4 separate regions of the Homo sapiens genome follow, and all the other regions are reported to be linked to region 3. Evidence: microRNA targets listed by miRTarBase, many of them from high-throughput screens and not tested one by one. Region 3 holds a microRNA gene; each other region holds the end of a gene's coding sequence. Distances are between the middles of the regions.
What was found. Region 3 holds the annotated microRNA hsa-miR-4699-3p (AAUUUACUCUGCAAUCUUCUCC, at 3,832-3,853, shown strand). A microRNA usually pairs through its seed, bases 2 to 8, with sites in the 3' UTR of a target mRNA and lowers its output. Matches are read on the target gene's strand: a 7mer-m8 pairs with bases 2 to 8, a 7mer-A1 pairs with bases 2 to 7 and ends in A, and an 8mer does both.

Region 1: miRTarBase lists NUP54 as a target of hsa-miR-4699-3p. Seed matches in the 3' UTR shown: 8mer at 4,544-4,551.
Region 2: the mRNA of GOLT1B is a reported target of hsa-miR-4699-3p. Seed matches in the 3' UTR shown: 7mer-A1 at 2,839-2,845.
Region 4: miRTarBase lists EDEM3 as a target of hsa-miR-4699-3p. Seed matches in the 3' UTR shown: 7mer-A1 at 2,201-2,207, 7mer-m8 at 2,225-2,231, 7mer-m8 at 2,767-2,773, 8mer at 3,756-3,763 and 7mer-A1 at 4,105-4,111.

The regions. Positions count from the first base shown.
Region 1 is chr4:76,110,462-76,116,945 of GRCh38, forward strand. NUP54 (nucleoporin 54) reads right to left here. Exons shown (of 12, transcript NM_017426.4): 12 at 4,203-5,033. The coding sequence ends at 4,905. It overlaps ART3 (ADP-ribosyltransferase 3 (inactive)), which reads left to right. Exons shown (of 12, transcript NM_001130016.3): 12 at 1,925-2,325. The coding sequence ends at 2,058. Among named protein-coding and RNA genes, the nearest start is that of NUP54, 35 kb to the right of the region's middle.
Region 2 is chr12:21,515,274-21,520,273 of GRCh38, forward strand. GOLT1B (golgi transport 1B) reads left to right here. Exons shown (of 5, transcript NM_016072.5): 5 at 396-3,135. The coding sequence ends at 434. Among named protein-coding and RNA genes, the nearest start is that of SPX, 8.5 kb to the right of the region's middle.
Region 3 is chr12:81,154,602-81,161,085 of GRCh38, forward strand. MIR4699 (microRNA 4699) reads left to right here and starts at 3,787; the gene lies at 3,787-3,860. All of the region lies in intron 7 of ACSS3 (acyl-CoA synthetase short chain family member 3), which reads left to right.
Region 4 is chr1:184,688,250-184,694,618 of GRCh38, reverse strand. It overlaps EDEM3 (ER degradation enhancing alpha-mannosidase like protein 3), which reads left to right. Exons shown (of 20, transcript NM_025191.4): 20 at 147-4,382. The coding sequence ends at 556. Among named protein-coding and RNA genes, the nearest start is that of EDEM3, 63 kb to the left of the region's middle.

The sequences.
Region 1 (6,484 bases), not on the chromosome of region 3:
CTGAGGGATGACTGTATATCCAGTTGTATGTTGGTGGTTATCTTGTTTGAAATAGAAGACACACAGAGTTAAACTTTACCTTGCATGTATATACAGAAAATGGAAATAGAAAAATTGCTAAAAAAAAATGCTAGAGAACTTGAACAACAGAAAATCATTATATTGGCTATATAGAAATGTAAAAGCATGTGAAATCCTACATAAAACCTAGCGTAGCAGATCTTGATGATATATAGTCGACCCTTGAACAACACAGGTTTGAACTGCATGGGTCCACTTATACATGGATTTTTTTTAAATAAATATATTGGAAATCTTTTTGGATATTTGCATCAATTTGAAGAAACTTGCAGACAAACTGCATGACCTAGAAATATATATATATATAAAAAGAAAGTATGTCATGAATGCATAAAATATATGTAGATGCTAGTCTATTTTTATCATTTACTACCATAAAACATACACAAATCTATTGTAAAACGTTAGTATTTATCCAAATTTGTGCACACAGACCATATGTGGCACCATTCAAAATCAAAAGAAACGTAAATGTAAAGATGCGGTATTAAAACTTAACTGCATAAAATTAACTATAATACATACTGTATCATTGTAATCATTTCATGGCCACCTCCTGTTGCTATTGCAGTGAGTTCAAATGTTTCGAGTATCCTCTTAAAACACCATGTGTTGCTAAACATCTCTGAGGAGTTCATCTCCAGTAAATTGCACATCACAGCAAAAAGTGATCTCTCACAGTTCTCCTGTATTTTTTGTCATGTTTGGTGCAATACCAAAAACCTTGAATAACACCATAGGACTCAAAGGAAGTGCCACTAGTGAGGCCGGAAGTCTCACAAGCAGAGAGAAGCCATGACATTACAAGAAAAAGTTGAATTGCTTGATATATAGATTCAGGTCTGCAGCTGCAGTTGCCAGCCATTTCAGACAGATAATTCATCTTATAAACAGATGATGTAAACTTTGGGTATTAGTAAATACAGTACAGTACTGTAAATGTGTTTTCTCTTCCTTATGATTTTAATATTTTTTCTCTATTTTATTGTAAAAATACAGTTTATTTATTTATTTATTTGAGCTGGAGTCTTGCTCTATCACCCAGGATGGAGTGCAGTGGTGCAATCTCTGCTCACTGCAAGCTCTGCCTCCCAGGTTCACACCATTCTCCTGCCTCAGCCTCCTGAGTAGCGGGGACTACAGGCGCCCGCCACCACGCCCGGCTAATTCTGTATATTTAGTAGAGACGGGGTTTTGCCGTGTTAGCCAGGATGGTCTCGATCTCCTGACCTCATGATGTGCCTGCCTCCGCCTCCCACAGTGCTGGGATTACAGGCGTGAGCCACCACGCCCAGCCAAAATACAGTATATAATACATTTACAAAATATGTGCTAATCAATTATTTTTATCTTTTTAAAAATAGAGATGGGGTCTCGCTATGTTGCCCAGGCTCAAACTCCTGGTCTCAAGTGGTCCTCCTGCCTTGGCCTCCTAAAATGCTGGAATTACAGGTGTGAGCCACCATGCCCCAACCAGAATACAGTATATAATACATATAACATATAAAATATGTTAATCAACAATTTCTATTATCAGTAAGGCTTCCAGTTAATGGTAGGCTATTAGTAGTTAAGTTTTTGGGAATCAGGTTACATGTAGGTTTTCATTGTGTGGGGGTTGGCACCCCAACACCCGTATTAAGGGTCAACTGTATATGGAAATATAGCCTGAAATCTGTAATGAATTACACTTATTTGAAAATTGCTTTTGGCTGGAAGTATTTCAGGTAAGTTTCTACTTCAACTTTAGTGTCATTGTTTACATATTCAGGATATATTTTATAGGTGGATGATACTTGACATAAAAAATGATGTGTCAGTGACTGTGTATTCTTGTTAACAGCTCCAGGTCCAGTTCCTGTTCCAGGTCCCAAAAGCCATCCTTCTGCATCCTCGGGCAAACTGCTGCTTCCACAGTTTGGGATGGTCATCATTTTAATCAGTGTTTCTGCTATAAATCTCTTTGTTGCTCTGTAGTTTGATGCATTGTTTATCTTTCTTATTCTTTACTTGAAATAACTATAGGGATCCACAGGAGATCAAAAGGAATGATGTATTTTTTACGTGTTGGCCAAAGTCACTGGATAAAATGAGAATTGTATATTTGTTATTCATTTTGCAAATTCAGAAAGTTGGTCCAGATATATGTCACAGAACTTTTCACTTGTATACTACTCTTACAATGGAAAAAAATCCCGAAAACTGTATACTTCTGATTAAATTCAATAAAAGATTTTGATTAGATATTTCAGAATTGCCAGTATGCTCAATACTGTTAGTGTTTAACATCAATTTAATATCTGAATTAGAACTTTAAGGATAGTCTACTCATCTCTTTGTCTTAGTCTGTTTGGGTTGCTGTAACAGACCACTGTAGACTAGGTAACTTGTAAGCAACATTTATTTATTTCTCACAGTTCCAGAGGCTGGGAAGTCCAAGATCAAGGTGCCAGCAGACTTAGTTTCTGGTGAGTGTCCTCTTCCTTGTCCTTTCCTCACCATCTCACATGGCAGAAGGGACAAGAGAGATAGAGCACTAATCCCATTCATGAAGGCTCCACCCTCATCATGACCTCCCAAAAGCCATACCTCCTAAAATCACCATATTGAGTGTTAGGATTTCAAGATGAATTTTTTGAGAACACAAACTACTCAGTCTATAACACTTGCTTCGATAACTGAGTCTAGTTATCTCACCAGTTATATGCTCAAGGACCACAGGCCTGCCTTATATATGCAGTCACCAGTGGGACAGAAACCCAACAGGATGACTGGGCCTGCCTTTTTAAAAGGCTGACCTTAGGCCCTGTCTGGTATATTTATCTGGTTGAACTAGCAACCAGCAATATTAGAACATGAAAAATCAAAGGCTAGAGAAGCGACCATGGTATGCATGATGAGTGATCCATCCACTAGATTATATAGCTCAGTGAGTAACAATTCTCATCAATTAGACCAACAACTCTTCCTACTATAAGGGGGTGTGCAGAGGGACAAAAACTCCTATACTTGGCTACATGGGTAAGAATGATGGACATGCAGATCTTCTGGGCCACGGAGAAAATGTGGACAAGGCAAGAAATTCCTGTCCCAACACTGTTGGTATTGCAATATAATGGGTAGGAAAGAATGATGAGAGGGTAGTAGAGTAGTGTAACAAATTTACACACCATAAACTTGGCAAAAGTAGCTGCATACTTCTGGCAGTCAATTTGGAAAGAAACAATCAGTTTTAAAGTTCCTAGTCTTGGCCAGGCATGGAGGTTCAGGCCTGTAATCCTAGCACTTTGGCAGGCCAAGGTAGGAGGATTGCTGGAGTCTAGGAGTTCAAGACCAGCCTGGGCAACATAACAAGACCCCATCTCTACACAAAATAAAAAATAATAGCCAGTTGTGGTGGTGCATGCCTGTAGTCCCAGCTACTCAAGAGTCTGAGGTGGGAGGACTGCTTAAACCCAGGAGGTCAAGGCTGCAGTGAGTCGTGATTGTGCCACTGTACCCCAGCCTGGGTGACAGAGAGACTTGTCTCAAAAAAAAAAAAAAAAAAAAAAACCCACAAAAAATCCTAGTCTACACAACTGTAACCTATACAACTGAGGAGAAATCTCTTCAGTGGATTCTCAGAGGATGGACTCCAGATAGATATACAGTGCATCACACTCTTCACCATCCCCATAGTAAATACAATAGCAAGATTCATGGGCCTGTTTCTTCTAACACCTGTCAATACAAGCCAAAGCATCACAGAGAAGTGCAAAGTTAAAGCATCTCAAAAGCGGCCAACATGATGCAGCCCAAATATAGTGTAGTCAGAAATACTGTTTAAAATGATCCACTGGTTAAAGACCCACTATTTAACACTACTTAATCTGTTTAACTCAGATTTTCTAGTATTTCGAATACTAATGACATATTAGGGAATTCTTAATACTAGATGATATCTGAAGTAAGTTTTACTTGCCATACCCTAATCAAAATATAACAGCACTGACAAAAATCCCTAGGAGGCAAAAATAAGACTTAAGACTAAAATTCCTGACTTGTGATTATGAATTTAGTACCTATGTGGACAAAAAATGGTCATTCCTCAAAAGCCAAATAAAGCACCAGACAGAATTATATAAAAGTAATTACAAATTAAGAATTTATTTATAAGTTTTCATCTTTTTAGAAATAAAAAGGCTTAAAAAACAAAATGGTTGCAAAAATGGTTAAGTAGTTTTGTTATATCCTAATTGCTTAGGTGTGCTCTGTAAATTCCAAATAAGTAAAATAATATAAAAATACATTTTCATATCTTTATAGAACAAAAACAAAACATTAAATGCTTTTGGATTTTCTTTACTCCTCCCACAGATGAGTTCACAAATACAAAAACTGGTGTACATTTATACTCAAGTACAAATCTCCAACAGCCAAGTAATTATAGTTTGTTCTGTTATGTGCAAAGTAGATTATTTCATATTTACTTGGTATGGAAAGCAGAGTACAGGCTCAATGGACAATAATCATTAAACACAGATTATGTTTAAGAAAATGCTGTTGTAAAAATGTACAATAGTACATACAATTTTGGTAATTATGCACTTCTTTTAAAGTAAATACAGCTTTTAGATATAAATCTTTCAAAGGTTTTCTTTGAAGAGCTGTGAGGTGACTATTTCAGATTTGATGAACAGTAATTTGTCAGTAAACTTCTCAAAAAACCAATCCAAGAAAGAATTGTTTTCTTTTTCCCTCCATGTGGTCGGTTTCATTCTTAAGGAAGGTCTGATGCAGTAAGAAGATGCATTTCACAAACCTTTACACAAGTTTGTGAACTGTCAACTAAAGACACCACCTCTGATGTGGATGGTTTCATTCAATCCATGTTCGACCAGCTTTATATCTTCTAGATCGTCTTTAATGATGCTAATCAAATGGCTAAGGCCTTCCTGTTGTTGTTTCAAATGCTAGAACAAATTAAGAAACAACATATTAATGTATTAATTTCTTAAAACTGCAAGCTAGTCACAGGAAAAAAGACTCCACTTTGACTATTTTACTAGCAACACAGTACCTAGTAAGTGCTCTAAATATAGAGGGCATGCATATTTAAACATTTGTACTACATCTTTTGCTAACAGTGAAAGACAAACTCTAAAGAACAATAAAATCAAACAAATATATAATGAACAATATCTTCCAACAAAAATGTTTTTTAGATAGCTATTCCTTTTACCAACTTTTGATAAAGGCATGATAATAAAACAGAACTCAAAGGAGGTATTCAAATATAGATGACTAGCAAAATAACATTCTGAAAACTGAGAATATTCATGTTTTGAAGTACAAAGTACATAGTGATAATGGTGGTGATGACTACAGATGCTAACATTTTTTTAAGACTCCTCCTCATGGGTTAAGGTGCTGTTTTAACAGTACTGGTATTCACTCACTTAACTCATTTAAAATCCTTTTGAGCCCCCTTTGGGGTACCATTATCATCTCGACAGTTAAAGAAACTACAGGTAAATAACCTGCCCAAGGTCATAAAGTAGATGGTGAACCATGATTCAATCCCAAAACAATACACTGCTCATAATTTTAAAAAAGACAGGTGTTTAAATTATTCCCAGTTTTATTGCATATATCAACTCTATTTAATACAACTATTTATTTCAATATACTGGAACCTGTTAATTTATTGCAAATACTTAAAACAATGGAATATAATTGGTTATGTGTGTAATATCCAAGAACCTGGAAGCCAAAGTAGTTTTTGGTTGCATAAAACCAGCCATATCCATTCTAACATAATAAAATTGGATTTGTTGATGACATTTATAATCTTTATCTAAAATCCTCAGGGCCATGCCAACAGTCATTAGCTACCTAGTATGTTCCACAAAGTTCATCATCTTCATATATTTTCTTTAGATACAACTGTTCATTTTCATTAAACCAATCTGCATTTATACTAATGAAAATAAGCCAAAGCAGTGTTTCCCAACTTTTTCACACAATGTGAAAACCCTAGAAAAGTGGTTGGAGGTTCTGGCCACCTCAACCTACCTCCATCCAGATCTCCTGAGAGCTTAGGGGACAGATCAATAACCAAATGTTTATAACTTACATGCGACATATAGGCAGGGAAGGTATTATCTAGAGCAGTTGCTTCTCAAACTTTAAAGTGCATACAAATCATTCTATGATCTTGATAAAATGCAGATTGAGTACGTCTGGAGTAAGGACTGAAATTTTGCATTTCTAATGACCTTCCAGGTGCGGCTACTACCTACACTTTAAGGAGCAAGGTCTAGGAAACTTTAGTGTCTCTACTACCTCTAAATTCATCTTTTTGGCGAGGAGAGGGATAATTCACTTTTTTAAACAGTGGCAAAACAGGCATACCATAAAATTT
Region 2 (5,000 bases), 60 Mb from region 3:
AGTTGAAATATCTTATTGGGTTCATTAATGCATGAATGGCTGACATTTCAGTTTTTTTTATGTTTTTATTTTTTATTTTTTGTTAAGCTAGCAGTGTTATCTTCATCTTATACAATTTCTTTATTCATTGTGTTGCATTTTTCATGTTGCACCCTTAAATTCATATGTATAACATGTCATGCAAAAAACAACTTTTAGAAAAAAAAATTTTATACACGTTTATGTATCAGAAGATGATGGTGAGTAGTACTGGATTAGTCATTGTCAGTCATACCTTAAATTTCCACAACTCTTCTTGTAAGGCTGGGTTTTTAAAATCAACATTTTAAATATTGATATAATGTTTTATAATGTTCCGGGCTTTCTTTAATTCTCTGTTTTTCTTCTCCTTACAGTTTGTAGATAAAGTTGGAGAAAGCAACAATATGGTATAACAACAAGTGAATTTGAAGACTCATTTAAAATATTGTGTTATTTATAAAGTCATTTGAAGAATATTCAGCACAAAATTAAATTACATGAAATAGCTTGTAATGTTCTTTACAGGAGTTTAAAACGTATAGCCTACAAAGTACCAGCAGCAAATTAGCAAAGAAGCAGTGAAAACAGGCTTCTACTCAAGTGAACTAAGAAGAAGTCAGCAAGCAAACTGAGAGAGGTGAAATCCATGTTAATGATGCTTAAGAAACTCTTGAAGGCTATTTGTGTTGTTTTTCCACAATGTGCGAAACTCAGCCATCCTTAGAGAACTGTGGTGCCTGTTTCTTTTCTTTTTATTTTGAAGGCTCAGGAGCATCCATAGGCATTTGCTTTTTAGAAATGTCCACTGCAATGGCAAAAATATTTCCAGTTGCACTGTATCTCTGGAAGTGATGCATGAATTCGATTGGATTGTGTCATTTTAAAGTATTAAAACCAAGGAAACCCCAATTTTGATGTATGGATTACTTTTTTTTGTAAACATGGTTAAAATAAAACTTTTGTGGTTCTTCTGAATCTTAATATTTCAAAGCCAGGTGAAAATCTGAACTAGATATTCTTTGTTGGAATATGCAAAGGTCATTCTTTACTAACTTTTAGTTACTAAATTATAGCTAAGTTTTGTCAGCAGCATACTCCGGAAAGTCTCATACTTCTTGGGAGTCTGCCCTCCTAAGTATCTGTCTATATCATTCATTACGTGTAAGTATTTAACAAAAAAGCATTCTTGACCATGAATGAAGTAGTTTGTTTCATAGCTTGTCTCATTGAATAGTATTATTGAAGATACTAAATGATGCAAACCAAATGGATTTTTTCCATGTCATGATGTAATTTTTCTTTCTTCTTTCTTTTTTTTAAATTTTAGCAGTGGCTTATTATTTGTTTTTCATAAATTAAAATAACTTTTGATAATGTTTACTTTAAGACATGTAACATGTTAAAAGGTTAAACTTATGGCTATTTTTAAAGGGCTATTCATTTAATCTGAGTTTTCCCTTATTTTCAGCTTTTTCCTAGCATATAATAGTCATTAAGCATGACATATCCTTCATATGATCACTCATCTTGAGTTAATTAGAAAATACCTGAGTTCACGTGCTAAAGTCATTTCACTGTAATAAACTGACTGTGGTTTCTTAAGAACATGACACTAAAAAAAAAGTGTTTTTTTTCCACCGTTGCTGATTATTAGACAGTAGGAAATAGCTGTTTTCTTTAGTTTTACAAGATGTGACAGCTTTAGTGGTAGATGTAGGGAAACATTTCAACAGCCATAGTACTATTTGTTTTACCACTGATTGCACTGTTTTGTTTTTTTAACAGTTGCAAAGCTTTTTAATGCATAAAAGTATAATTGAAATCTGTGGTATTTATTTACAAACATGTCTACAAAAATAGATTACAGCTTATTTTATTTTTAGTTAAATCTCTTAATACACAGAGAACTCCCAATCTTGCTCATCTAAATAAGGAAAGACTTGGTGTATAGTGTGATGGTTTAGTCTTAAGGATTAAGACATTTTTGGTACTTGCATTTGACTTACGATGTATCTGTGAAAATGGGATGATATTGACAAATGGAGACTCCTACCTCAATAGTTAATGGAATAATAAGAGGCTACTGTTGTGTCTAATGTTCTTCAAAAAAGTAATATCCTCACTTGGAGAGTGTCAAATACATACTTTGAGGATTGACTTTATATAAGGTGCCCTGTAGAACTCTGTTACACATATTTTTGACCCATATTATTTACAATGTCTTGATAATTCTACCTTTTTAGAGCAAGAATAGTATCTGCTAATGTAAGGGACATCTGTATTTAACTCCTTTGTAGACATGAATTTCTATCAAAATGTTCTTTGCACTGTAACAGAGATTCCTTTTTTCAATAATCTTAATTCAAAAGCATTATTAGACTTGAAAGGGTTTGATAATCTCCCAGTCCTTAGTAAAGATTGAGAGAGGCTGGAGCAGTTTTCAGTTTTAAATGAGTCTGCAGTTAATATCAAATGTGAGTTTGGGACTGCCTGGCAACATTTATATTTCTTATTCAGAACCCTTGATGAGACTATTTTTAAACATACTAGTCTGCTGATAGAAAGCACTATACATCCTATTGTTTCTTTCTTTCCAAAATCAGCCTTCTGTCTGTAACAAAAATGTACTTTATAGAGATGGAGGAAAAGGTCTAATACTACATAGCCTTAAGTGTTTCTGTCATTGTTCAAGTGTATTTTCTGTAACAGAAACATATTTGGAATGTTTTTCTTTTCCCCTTATAAATTGTAATTCCTGAAATACTGCTGCTTTAAAAAGTCCCACTGTCAGATTATATTATCTAACAATTGAATATTGTAAATATACTTGTCTTACCTCTCAATAAAAGGGTACTTTTCTATTAATTGGTGGTCAAGTATATCTGTGTTATGAAGTTCTAAAAGCTAATTTAGCATTGCAAAATAACCTCATTTTTAAAAAATTAGCCTTATATGCAGTGTTCTATTTATCAAATGATCTTCACATCTTTCATTTCCAAATTGTTGAAATGTACTAATGAATACAAATAGACTTCAAGTAAGCAAAAATGTTCTTAATTTTGAAAACTGTAAAATAAAGTCACTTACCTTGGGCAATATGCTATTTTTTAAAAATCAGACTCCCAGTTTGTATATTATGTTATTCAATAGACATTTTCTGAGTACCCCTTGAATACTAAAAGTCCTGTGTTGAATGTGGGAGACCCAGGAGAACAAGATATGTGCCATCTGCTCATTAAGTGCTTAGAATGTTAACATTGCTTTTAAATTCTTAGCCGTATTTCCACATAACTTGTCCTGACTTACACTGCAAACAAATGGTGGTAGAAGAATTTGCAGTCGAAACACCCCAACCTCTTATTTTTCTCCCAGTCAAGAGTTACTAGAACTATTCAACCTTCAGCTGTGTTGAATAGTTTTAGTAACTCTTGACTGGGAGAAAAGCTGTGTGATTGGTTCGCATTTTCAAAAGATGTCTGGAGGAAAAAAAATAATACCAGCTTTAACTCTGGGAGGTTTGTTTTGAGATGTAATTTCTTTTGCAAGTCTGTATATGTATTCAACTTAATGTAGCGTATGTTTTTGGTTTCTTTGTGGCAGGGGGAAGAGAATTGTTTTTAATGTAGGCCTAGGGATTTAGAACTGTCACTGCTATTTGTGTTGTCTGGAAGCCTGCCACCAAATCTGTATTGCCACAGGCAGTTGGGGTAGTTTTCTGAAAGCTGCTATGATTGCTACCATTAATTGCAAAGTTTAAAAAGCGGTGAGGGAATTTAGAAATTAGAGGAGAAATGCTTATATATTTTTTCTCAGGATGGAAAGGATCTTAAGTTTTTCTCACCTAAATAAGACCACAACACCTACATTGTTTTAACTGTAAATTTTATTAAGGCCGAAAAAAAACACTGGCCAAGTCTACCACTTAACATACCCAGTAAGTATTTGTTGAATTCACTAATTAAGCTGCAAATCCAGACTATTGTTGGGTAAACGGGAAGTCTTGAATCTGTTATTAAATATCCAGCATATTTCTCTAATCTTGACCTGAGCCAAAAGGCCCCAACCTCAGTTCTTCTGTTACCTGTATCCATGTAGGAGATTGGACACTAGCAGCATGCCCAAAATTCTTCATTGACTAACATGCGTTTCCATGACCTTAGCTTTACTCAATTCTCAAGGCCTGATTAAAATGTCACTGCTGTCATATCTTTCCTTACCAGCTAGGCCCAAACAGTTGCTCCTTCCCTGTCCTCTCATACAACTTTCCACTTGCTTTGTATTGATTTGGTTATGGAAAAGATTCTTGAGGTTCGAAATCTCCTCTTTGATTTGTATCTCCAGTTCCTGGCATTTAGTGGGTGCCCAGTAAGTGGTTTAATGAGTGAAAGTTCATTCTTCCAGCTCTTCTGGTGCTGGCCCCACTGATCACTTCTTTTTTTTGTTTGTTCGTTTTTGTTTTTTGAGACTTGCTCTTGTCACCCAGGCTGGAGTGCAGTGGCATGATCTTGGCTCACTGCAGCCTTCACCTTCTGGGTTCAAGTGATTCTCCCGCCTCAGCCTCCTGAGTAGCTGGGATTACAGGCACCCGCCACCACACCTGGCTAATTTTTGTATTTCTAGTAGAGATGGGGTTTTGCCATGTTAGCCAGGCTGGTCCCGAACTCCTGACCTCGTGATCTGCCCACCTCGGCCTCCCAAAGTGCTGGGATTACAGGCTTGAGCCACCATGCCCGGCCTGATCACTTCTAATATATTGAAATCAGCCTCTATCAGCCGTAAAGTTAAATCTAATGATCTGGCCCCCGCTGAAGTCCACCTTTCTACTTCACATTCCTTAGGACTTTACTGTACCCAGTAGCTTGTCAACGGAGAGAGGGATCATAGATAAAAGAAAGACCATGCCTCCAGATTGGCTGCCCTTCTTCACAAAAAAGGGAGGCCGCTGGGGAAACCAGAAGCTACTCCTAAAGTTTTGAGGC
Region 3 (6,484 bases):
AAAAATATCCTGCCCAGATTCCTGAACCTCATATTGTTTCAGTTATTCCTCATCTCACCGTAGTCTGATTTATGTTCACATCATTTCATAGAAGCTGCTGCAGCAGGGGTCACCAGTGACTTCATAAGTGACAAAGTCAAAGGGCCTTGTTTAATCTGATTTTATTTTTTCTCTTACTAGAGTTCAGCCCTGCAGACCATTCCTTTAGGTGATCCTTTCCTCTCTCTTGAGCTCCAGGCTCTTTGGCTAATGTTCATGTTGTTTCTTTTTTCTGGTGTGACTTTCCTCCTGTCTTTCCTTTCTTGGTTAACTCCTACTCTCCTTGTAGACTCTGCTTAGATGTTATAATTTCTTGAAAGTTTTCTCTCACGTTCTTGGGCTGTGTGCAGTGCCCCTTTTTGTGGTCCCGTTGCTTTCGAGCATATGTCTGTCACTGAGCTGGCCACACTATACTGAAATGATACATTTATGTCTAGAAGAGGGTATCATCTCGAAGAGGATAAAAGCCAGTTTCACAGCACAGTGCATAGCACACACTACACAATTAATAAATACTTGTGGAACTAAATTATACTCTACTCCTCGTTTTCTTTCTTCCATCCTGACAGCTTGTTCTTCTTTTCTTCTCTTTGTTTCTTTCACTTTGGTCCTTAACATTAGAGTTTAGCAGGATCATAGTCTTTGCTCTATTTTCTTATTCTGCTTACGTTTCCTGGATAATCTCCAAGCAGTTTATATTTGAGGATCATTAATTAAATCATGGCTTCTAAATCCCCTTTTTATATCTGCCTTTCCTGCTGAGTACTAACCTATTGTTAGACATCTCTGAATAGTCTGTGCACATCTTATGCCCAAGATGACATGAACTGAGTTCTGTATCTCCACCCCACCCTGCAAACCATATTTCCTTCAGTGCACTCTGTGTTTCTGTTAATGTTACCTCCATTCATGCAGTAATGCAAACTGAGAATCTGCAAGTGATTCTTAAGTTCATTTTCCTTGCATCTCACACTCTGCTGGTCATTACAGTTTGTTGAATCTACTTATTCAGTACTTATCAAAAGTGTCCTCTTTTTTCCATGCCTCTTGACATGTATTCAGGGCTGATATTCAGCTCATGCACAAATATGTCATGTTGACTTATGTCCATTCTATGTTTTGGCTTCTGATATGATGTGTGCCTATACATTCCAGTTACATATTTCAGGTTATCATTAGATACACTTCTCTCTTAATATTGATAAAACAACAGACAGAAAGTCAGTGAAGATGTAGAAAAACTTGACATCATCAACCAACAAGATTTAATTGACATTCATAGAAAACTATTCTCGACAGCAGCAGAATACACATTCTTTTTAAATGCCCACAGAATAATTACCAAGATAAACGAAAACCTGGGCCACGAAACAAACTTCAACTAATTTAAAAATATTTGAAGTCATGCAAAGTCTATTTTAAGACCACAGTATTTTCAAACTAAAAATTAAAAAGAGTTAACAGGAAAATCCCCAAACAATTGGAATCTAATCAATATACTTCTAAATAAATAATCCATAGGTCAAATAGGAAATATCCAGGAAAACACACACACACACACACACACCCCACACACACACACACACACACGTCTCTGGGTGTATATATCTCAAACTGATTGAAAAAGAAAGTACATCATATAAAATTTTGGAGGACACAACTAAGGCAGTTCTGAGAGGGAAATTTATAGCACTAAATGGATATACTAGAAAAGAGGAAAACTCTCAAATCAAGAATATAAGCTCCTATCTCAAGATCCTAGGAAAAGAGGAACAAAATATACCTAAAACCAGGAAGGAATAATAAAGGTAAAAGCAGGAATCAATAACATTGAAAACATAAAAACATAGAAAATTAATGAAAAAGAACTATTTCTTTGAAAAGATAAATGAAATGGACAAACCTCTACAAGCCTAGCAAAGAAAAGAGACAGAAGACACAAATTACCAGTACCACATGTGAAACAGTAGATATCACTAAAGACGCTGCAGACATCAAAAGTGTAATAGGGGAATACTATGAGAAATTCAACACACATAAATTTGACAACTTAGATGAAGATGAAATAGACTAATTCCTCAAAAACCATAAACTCACCAAATGAGAAATAAATTACTAGAATAGCCTTATTACTATTAAGAAAATCCAATATGTAATTAAATAGACTCCCAACAAGAAATCTCCAGACACAGATGGTTTTACTGGAAAATTCTACCAATGTTTAAAATAGAAGAGGAGGCAGGTGGCTGGTATTTCTGTATTCCATGTGCCATCTACTAATGTTTAAGGGAGAATCAATACCATTTCTTCACAGTCTCTTTCAGAAAATAGAAGAGGAGGGAACACTCTCCTTATCATTTAATGAAGCTTGTATTGCCCTAATAAAAAGTCAACGACAAAAAAAAATACTACAAACTAATGTCCTTCATAAACATATAGATACAAGAATTCTTGACAAAATATTAGCAAATATTTTGAATTCAACAATTCAGCAATCTATAAAATGAATTATACACTGTGACCAAGTGGAATTTATTCCAGAGGTACAAGGCTGCTTCAATATCTGAAAATTAATCAAGGTAATCTACCATATTAATAGGCTACAGAAAAATTATATAATCATATTAATTGATGTAGAAAAAGTTGTTTAATAAATTCAACATTCATTCATAATGAAGAGCTATCAGAAAACTAGTAATTGAAAGGAACTTCCTCAACCTGACAAAAGATCACCTATGAAAAAACCTGCTGCTAATATCATACCTAATCATAAAAGCCTGATTGTTTCTCCTCTGTTGTTCAGGAACAAGGCAAGTATTTCCACTCTCACCCTCTATTCAACATATCTGTGGAAGTTCTAGCTCATTTAATAAAGAAGTATAGGGAAGCTGGGCGCGGTGGCTCACGCCTGTAATCCCAGCACTTTGGGAGGTCAAGGCGGGCAGATCATGAGGTCAGGAGTTCAAGGTCAGCCTGACCAATATGGTGAAACCCCATCTCTACTAAAAATACAAAAATTAGCCAGGCATGGTGGTGCGCACCTATAGTCCCAGCTACTCGGGAGGCTGAGGCAAGAGAATCGCTTGAACCCAGGAGGTGGAAGTTGCAGTGAGCCAAGATCGCAACACTGCACTCCAGCCTGGGCAACAGAGCAAGACTCCCTCTCAAAAAATAAATAAATAAATATAAACAGAAATATAGAGGAAGAAAAGGCATACACACCAGAAGGGTAGAAATAAAATTGTCTTTATTTGCAGATGGCATGATTATTTGCATAAATGATTACAGAATACACACACACACACACACACACACACACACACACACACAAATCCCATAACTAATAAGTGAGTTCAACCCAGTCTCAGGATACAAGATTAACATACAAATATTCATTGTGTCTCTATAAATCAGCAATGGCCACATATGGCCATAAAGGGCATCACGAAGGATCCTTGTAGAGATGAACTGGTTTGTATCTTGACTGTATCAATATTCTGATTGTGATAACATATTGTAGTTTTGCAGTTTTTACACCTGGGGAAAACTGGTTAAAGGGTATATCTCTGTATTACTTCTTACAACTGCATGTAAATCTGCTTATTTTCCTGATAATTACCACATTTTCAAACAAATTCATAAAACTACCTCATTAAAACAAACAACAACAAAAATCTCTAATCCCTTATCTCCTGACAGCTACAACATTCTCTCTTTAAGGCCTTGTCTACACTCAACAGCTTCAACAGCAATTGGAGAAGATTGCAGAGTAAGTTCCTGATTAAGAAATGGAATTTACTCTGCAATCTTCTCCAATTGCTGTCACCATCATTCCATAGCTACAGCTTTTCCTAACATCCCCAGTCATCTCTACTTGCCAAAGTCAATGGGCATTTTCAGTCTTCACTGTGCTTGACTCCTCAGCATTTGAAAGTGTTGGCCATTTGCTCGATCCTAATCATTCTCTTTCCTTCCAAGGTACAACGTGCTCCTGTCTAATGTACCACATGCTCCTGTTTCCCTGCAGTTATTCTTATGCTCATTCCTGTCCCAGGAACATTGCCTGAAATATATGCTACTTGTCTGTTAGATTTCAGCTGGTGTCACTTCCTCAGGGAAGCCCTCCTTGACCTCCCTGATTAGGTCAAATCCCTTTATCATGGTCTTTTAGCACATTGCATTTTCCCTTGGTGGTTTGTATAAAACTTGCAGATTCATATTAGTCTTTAGGCTCCTTTGATGTGTTCGTTTGCCCTTCTTTCCTCTAACTGTACTAAGGAAGGAGTCATCTGAGTTTGTGTCCACCGTCAATTCTCAGCTCCTTGCCTTAATGACACATATTCAGTATTTAATACATATTTGTTAAATAAATGCCTGAATGACAATATCAGAAGAAAACTTGATTTATACGTAAAGATTTTTTCTATCAATGAGTAAGAGTAATTTAAATTTTCTTTTTTTTACAACAGGACTGCATGAGCAACTTATATAAGTCAGGTTATATGTTTTATAGACAGAGATTTACTTTTATCAGTGGAATTGGACATATTTAAATACAGAACACCTGTATTTAAGTAGTTTATTTTCTGAGAGGGAAATTTATAGCACTAAATAGATAGATTAGAAAAGAGGAAAACACTCAAATCAAGAATATAAGCTCCTATCTCAAGAACCTAGGAAAAAAGGAACAAAATATGCCCAAAACCAGGAAAGAATAATAAAGTTACCAAATAATAAAGGAATAAGTCAGGATATATGTTTTATAGACAGAGATTTACTTTTATCAATGGAATTGGACATATTTAAATACAAAACACCTGGCCAGCTCAGTCAGTGCAGTATGAGATGTTTAAAGTATGCAATTCTTGAAGGAAAATTGGATTGACCAGTTAAAATATGGAAACCAATTCTGAATAATTTAGTCTTTACTTTTGAGAGGAAAAAATTGAATGGTACTTCTTTAGAAATCTACTTCATTAATAGAGCAGTGATTCCAATAGATCTAACCCTAACCGTGTATGAACAAGAACAGATATTTGGTAGGATGGTTTTGCCAAAGAGAAGGGATAAAACACAAGCAATCTTTTCACATAGGAATGCAATGTACAAACAAATTTAGCTAACAGCCTAGTGTGTATGCGCATTCACATGTGTGTGATGGCAAATGGTGATTATACAGAGATATGCTCCCTTGCCTCTCTCTTCTTTCTAGTATTTCTTCCCTTTACCAGACTGTCATCTGCAGAATCAAAATCCAACACATTTCTCTAAGGCAAATAAATCTTTCCGTGTCCTGCCTTTCTCCTTATCTTTGCTGTCTACCAATGTGCAAAAGTGTGTGTTGTACACATATTTCAATTTCATGATACAGTAAGCCCAGGCTTCCACAATGACAGTGGTGTGGTTAAGCAAGAAATGAGATTACTGTTCCTTGGCTAGAGTATTACGTAGGTCTAAAATGGAATGTTAGTAGTTACTGTTTCTCCTTAAATCCGGCTTTAGAGTAAGCCATAAACTGGTTGGTATAATTGGTCTTGATATAGCAGTTGTCATTTTTATGTAATAACAGTCTTCTTTTCCAGTCAAGGGATATAAGTTTGCTCTCATTTTACATTTGTTTGTATTTCACATATGGTATACATCACAGCAACAAGCCTTTTCAATAAATTCTTCAGTATGTTTACTAGATTAGCAAGGGCAGATGGCTATTTGTTAATAATTCAACAATTAACTTTGAAGGTATATGCCATACTCTGCCTTCTCAGGCAATAAATTGAATTAGAGAAAGGTGAGGATTTAAAATTCTGAATGATGGTACAGGAGTATGGTCGCTGGACTAGAAATACTAACATATGTGTGGTTATCTTGCTCTGCCTTTATGTACCTATATGACTTAAGCAAATTAATTAAACCTCTTTGGTAGTTCATTTTTTAATCATTAAAATGAGAGGGTTGACACACACTGTCTCAATTTTCACTTTTGTGAATCTTCTTCACTTTAATTGGTTTTCTTGAATAAATATATTATTTGGTAACTTATTTTATTTTTTAACTCTGGAATTTATTCCAATTTCTTTTCATAGTTAGGGAATGCTGATTCTTCAAATATATTTACTGAAGAAAACTTTCACTTTAAATTAGTGAATACTTTTAGTGTTTGAGAGGAAGCATACTAGTTAAGGCTGCCATGGTATGATTTCTGACACTTCTGTTTATTAATTGTGTGGCCTCAAGCTGCTTTACTGCTTTCTGCCTTAGTCTTCTGAACTATAATTATCAGTAGTAATAATACCTATGGCATTCAATTGGTTAATCTGTGAATAAATATTTAGAATAATTCCCACGATATAATAGTGTAATCAGTTCTGGATATTATAAGCTATAGTTATTATTCAAAAACACAAATGTATTATTTCCCAGAATAGAATTCTAATATATAAACACT
Region 4 (6,369 bases), not on the chromosome of region 3:
TTCAGTGCTGATGCTCACCTTTCTGCATTAACATGAGTCTCTTTCACGTTTTATTTCATCTTGTTGCAAAAACCAATATGCTTTGGAAAGTGTAATAGTACATTTTTTTAGAGAAGTAGCATGAGGTTTGTTTCTTTCTCATACAGATCCTGAAATGGAAAATGAAGAACAACCATCCTCTGAAAATGATTCTCAGAATCAGAGTGGTGAACAGATTTCATCAAGTTCTCAGGAGGTTGATTTGGTTGATCAAGAGTCTTCTGAGGAAAATTCTCTAAATTCTCACCCAGAATCATTATCTCTAGCAGATATGGACAATGCTGCAAGCATTTCCCCTTCTGAACAGACTTCTAATCCCACAGAAAACCATGAGACTACAAATCTTAATGGTGAATGTACAGATTTAGATAACCAGCTTCAAGAACAATCAGAAACTGAGGAAGATTCCAATCCTAATGTTAGCTGGGGTAAAAAGGTCCAGCCTATAGACTCCATATTAGCAGACTGGAATGAAGATATAGAAGCATTTGAAATGATGGAGAAGGATGAGCTATGACTTGCTAAACAATCTGTTGGTAGGTATTTAAAAAGAAAAGGTAAACTGTGTGTGGTTAATAGACATCCTAATACTAAGCAGGCTTTCTAATGGGAGGCTTTAAGTATGGTGATGAACAACCACGTTCTGACTGGCGTAGTTATCGTAGGAATCTGGAGCATGCTGTGTTAGAATTGACCTTGTTTAAAACTGTCCCATCAAAAATGGAAATCCACAGTTCCCCCTTCAAATGCAGCACTGCACCACCCTGCAACACCTCAGGCCAGGGAAAGATTACTGAGCATTCCTGCGAACCAGATTTCTGTTGTCTCTGGATAGACAAGAAACAAAATTCATTTAGTAGTGGAGTGGGGAATAGGAGTTTGGATAGCCTTCTAATTAAAGGAAGCTCGCCTTTCTTGGTTTTGGGGGTTAGAGGCTCTTTTGGGAAGATGCATCCGAGTATTGTGGCATTCTGATTATGCTGCCTTCACAAAACACTCTAAGTGACCTAAGTGGTTATGAAGCAAATGCATTTATGGTGAAAACAGTCTTTGCTCATTGCTTTCTCTTGTTTCATTTAGTGACAAATGATCAAGATGACTTGATTTTTTTTCCTTCTTAACAATGTCTTTTTTATTTAAACCAAAGGTGAAGCCAGTGTACTTTCTCAGTGAGTTCTCTGCATAAAGACTAATCAGTGGGACCAGGTAAAAAGGTCATATAATACATTGTGGAGATTGCTTACTTAATACTTCTGAAAAATGGAGTAAGGGAGAAACTGTAATGTTGCAATATGAACCTCCCATTGGGCCTTCCATAGGGAAAGCTGTGACTACTCTGAAATGGAACCTAGCATTATATCCTTGTAGGGTAGATTATAAATCATTTCCAGTTCATTTCTCTTAGAGGTGATTACCTCTAGCCATCAGCCTTACTCCATCCCATGTTTGGTATGCAATTTGAGCCACAAGGCTCGTATCGCCAACAGCTATATACATTTTGTTCCATTTTTCTGTCTTACAGAGCCATGATAGAACTGTGGTTAGTGAGTTAAAATTCCTGGAGTAACTACTGTTTTTCTCCTTTGAAACTTAGGTTTCTAAAGTTGCACCTAAGGAATCTGTCACATTTTCTGTTGAATCATGGTTTTTGTTTTTGTTTTTAACAGATATTCCTTCTGATACGGACTTGAAAATTAGTGTATGGTGACCTGTGTTTAAAAAAAAAAGTACAATACAACTACATATAGCTATATAGCTTAATGAGACTTCCACCCCCCCCCTTTTTTTTTTTGGTTTGTTGTTGTTGTAGTAGTCTGGTGCTGGCCACATTTAAGTCTTAAAAATTTTTAAATTTTGTTGTTGATGTTTGTAGACAGCCCTGTTGTTGAAATCATGGCTTTATTCATTTTATTTATTTTTTAAACTTGCCTGAATTTGTTCTAAAGGAATATTTAAGAGACATAATTTTCTTCTCTTTACCATAACATTACACAAAACTTTTTCCTAAAACACGGTTGTGAGGTACTGATGAGGTGTAAGTGGAGCTGTTAAAAACAGCAGTGCTGTATTGCAGTTATGTATATTCGTGTACAGTATGTTTAGATCCCAGGTAAACATATTCTTTTCTGAGAGGATAAATACCTGCATTCAGATATTCCAGGTAAATATAATTGAGTCAGGGAGTAGTAAATCTGATGGAGAATTCACTTTGGGGAGGGGAAAAAGAATAGTATGCAAGACCCTTATTGGCTTTTAATTATACCTGAAACCAAAATGGATATTTTTAGTCTCTCTGCATGTGAGATTTGGTGTAACAAGATAGAACTATAATATATACAGTATATGGAAGGATAGATATAGTGCTTTGTTCATTTTAATTGCAAAGCTGCCAAAATAGTTGAAGCTTAATTACTTGACTTGCCTTGATTTATAGGACTGGGGCTTGGAGAAAATGAGCAGATGTTCCTCTAAGACATCGATTACAGAAGCCTTATATACATGGATTTGATTTTGTATTTGTAGCTGAAAGTCACTGTTGTCTAAAACTAACTTTTCTAAGTTATCAAAACAACCTAATTTCTTTTCCAACAAGGAGAACTTAATGGCATGAAGGATTGTGTGACACATTGGAAAAGCCAGCTTACTGCCACTCTCTTCCTTTGGCCATTAGAGGGAGGTGTTGCCTTTCATTGACGCTTAGAAGCAAATTGTTCACTTGTTAAGAAAAGTAAATCCTTAAAAAAAGAAAAGGAAAAAATTTAACCAATTTTTCTTAATACCCAGAAGGAATTATACTCAATATTTCCCTAGTTAAGAAAAGAGGAGATAATGTTCGTCTAAAAAACTCCAACGTTGTAATTACAACTCTACATTCATTTACTTACTTGACATACTGCCACAAAGTAGTTTTTGAGTTCATTAAAAATTCCAAAGGCATTAGTTGTTTTTTTTTTTTTTAGTGTTTTGTTTTTTAGTTAACTTTTATAGACATTTTAGTAACTTGCTAAAGATTCAGGGGATTCTATGAAACCCCGAATTTAGAAACATCTGGTCTACCTCAGTTAAATGTTGACTGCTTAGAAATATAGCTGAAGTGATCACCACAGCCATAAAATTGTTTAAGAAAGATTTATATAATGTTTACAAATCTGGAATCAAGGATTTTAGCTGAAATCCTTTAAGAGATATTAGAGCAAGTATTTAATTCAGGTATTTTCAAGTTTTAAAACTTAACCTGTTTACCTACTAAAAATAAAATAGCTAGTTTTTTTCTGCATATAAAAGTTCATTGAAATGATATGCCCTTATTTGCAATACTTTTCCCATAAAGTTTTAAGTGTGAAAGAATTGTAATTTACTAGATATGTTTGGTATGGGATATTTTGTTAGGCAAGTTTTCTTTTTTCTTCTTAAATTGCAATAGGCTTCCAAAAAGAGTATAATTGTTTCAGAACAAATTAACTCTTGGCATTATACGTCTCCCTTTTTCTTTACAGTATTAGTAAAAAGAAAAATTGTACACTTTCTGATTTTAACTTCACTAATGTAATTACTCTCTCAAGAAGCTTTTAAAATTTAAATTACCATCACACAACCTTTTTTATAGTAAAGCCAACATTTGTTCTCTCACCAAACCCCATGCCAAATTCATCATGAAGAAAGCTCAGCATAAGTAATTCAAATACTGCTTATAATTTTAGAGGGGGGTAGAATTTAGTAAATATTCCAGCCGGTCGTTTTATGCACAAGGCTTCAGTCAGAACATAGAAAAAAAAAACATTCTGTGAATGAAATATTGTATGTTCAGATTTTATAAAAGACATTTTTAAAAGCCCAATTTACAGCCGTATATTTTCTTATGATGTAATTTATGAAAAAGATGTCTGTACTAACAGGTGCTGTAACACTACTGTTGTTGGATTTTATTGTTTGGTGATAAATGTATACAATATTTCTAAGGGAAACTATGTACTGTGATGTAAAAGTCTGGGCAAAATGTATATAATCCTGTATATAATTATGTATTTGATTATAATTACTGATTGTAAAGATTTAATAAAATATGTAAATATTCCAGTTTAGTTTTAATTTGAATTTTTAGAATCACTGTGCATATCCTCATACTTTTATGTCTTGATGTTTATCACTCTGTTTTCCTTTTTTTTTTAAACTCATTTTATCCTCCGGGGATTGAATTCTGGGGACATTTTAGGCTGTAGAAACCCAAGCTTGTGGGCTAAAGTAAGGATTTTGTTCTAAGAAATCACTGAAAGTTTTTCAACAAGTCAGTAGCATGCACAAAGGTAATGCTAAGTGAATAAAACTCTAGAATTGTGTATAAATTATGATCCAGCGCTTGCTCACTCTCTCCATACACATATATACATACACATTATATATATATACACACACATATATATAATGACATTGACTCATTTATTCAACAAAGATTAAGGGCGTGCATGCCTTCTGTATGCCAGGCACTATTATAGGACCTGGGGTTGTAGTGGACAGATGGACAAAATGTGGTAAAGAAGATAGAAAATAAAGTAGTAAGTAAAAAGGACAATGAGTTTATGAAGAAAAAATTATGGTGAGGGGATAGAGAGTGGTGGAAATCATGGAGTGAGTTAAATAGCCAAAATACTAACAGTGGTTATCTTGGATTGTAGGCAATTGCTATTTCCTTATTTGTATATGTCAGTATTTTCATAAGTTTCCAAAATAAGCATTATGCTTTTAAAAATAAGTAGTTTAGGTCAGCGAAAGAAGAGAACATGAAAAATACACACGAGGTGGGGCATAGTGGTGCACACCTATAATCGCATCTCCTCCTCAAGAAGCTGAGGTTGGGAGGATCGCTTGTGCCCAGAACTTTGAGACCAGCCTGGGCAACAGAGGAGACCCTGTCTCAAAAACAAAACAAAATCACCCCAGAATCCTCCTATCTCATGTTTCTGCACGATTCAACCAATCCCATATGTACTGCACACCTACCATGGACATAAGCAGCATTTGGCTGGGACTCAAAACCTTGAGAGATGAGGTTTACCAAGAAAACTGTGTGGAATAGGGAAGAGAGAAGATCTAAAATAGAGCCCTGAGATTCCTAGAATCTGGGGACAGCAGAGGAGGAAGGACTTTTGTAGAAGGGAATGAAAAAGAGCAGTTGGAGAAGTGGGAGGAAAACAAGGCTGAAGCAGTGTATAAAAACCAAGAAAGCATTTCAAGGAGGGAGTGGCAAATAGCCTGAAACCCCTAAAAAGTAGTTTCTTGGTTTTAGCAACCTTTTCTGAAGTCCCCTACCCCACTAAATAGCCGCAGGAGACAGTGGGTACTTGATGCAGGCATACTGTTGCTATGGAAGAATGTGTGGCTCCATCTTTTTAATATTTGAGAAAAACCAGAAATTCAGGTGAAATCTTATTTTAAAACATTGTTCAAGTTAAACAAAATATATGTGACAGCAGTGGTCTCCAGTTTGCAACCTCCGAGCTGTCAGATCCTTACCTCCACATGTGTATGTACAAGGAAGACCCCATTCGTTTTTAGAGGATCATTCACCAATTTCCACTTCCAAATTTATCATATGCACCATAGACCTCTTTCAACTGTTGAGATTTTCATATGTCTTAATGGCCCTGGTGGTGATTAAGTGGCTTTTTAAATGTAGATTATTCATTTAATCAAGTAGGTCAATGGAAAGTGGACATCCATTCATTCACCTTCCTACAATTACTCTTTTTAAAAAAATTTTTGAGACAGGGTCTCACTATGTTGCCCAGGCTGGAGTGCAGTGGCTGTTCACAGGTGAGAACATAGTGCACTGCAGCATTGAACTCCTGGCCTTAAGCAGTCCTTCCACATCAGCCTCCCAAGTAACTGGGATTACAGGCACCTGCCACCATGCCTGGCTTCACCTTTTTACATTTTCTAATGTCAACCTTTGAGACCATCTTTAACCTGAGGCAATGAAAGTTTGTCTCTTGAATCCAGTTCAGGTCTTTCTTCCATCAACTGGTCTGGCCAGACTGCTGACTCAACTTCACCCCACCTTCCTTCTGTGGTTCCTGGTGGCTCGCTGTCTCCAGGAGCCCCATCCAAGCCACATACTCCCCTAGGGTGTATCTGTAAGCTTCTGCTCAGCTCAACAGTGGTTCCTTCAAGTTCCAGCAACACCTCAAAGAGGACTGGTCCAGGCCAGCTCTCTAATAAGCTATATGAACACTGGTATCATCCTTGCAGTCCTAATAATAAAAAGAACCAACACTTTTTCTTTTTCGAGACAGAGTTTTACTGTGTCATCCAGGCTGGAGTGCAGTGGTGCAG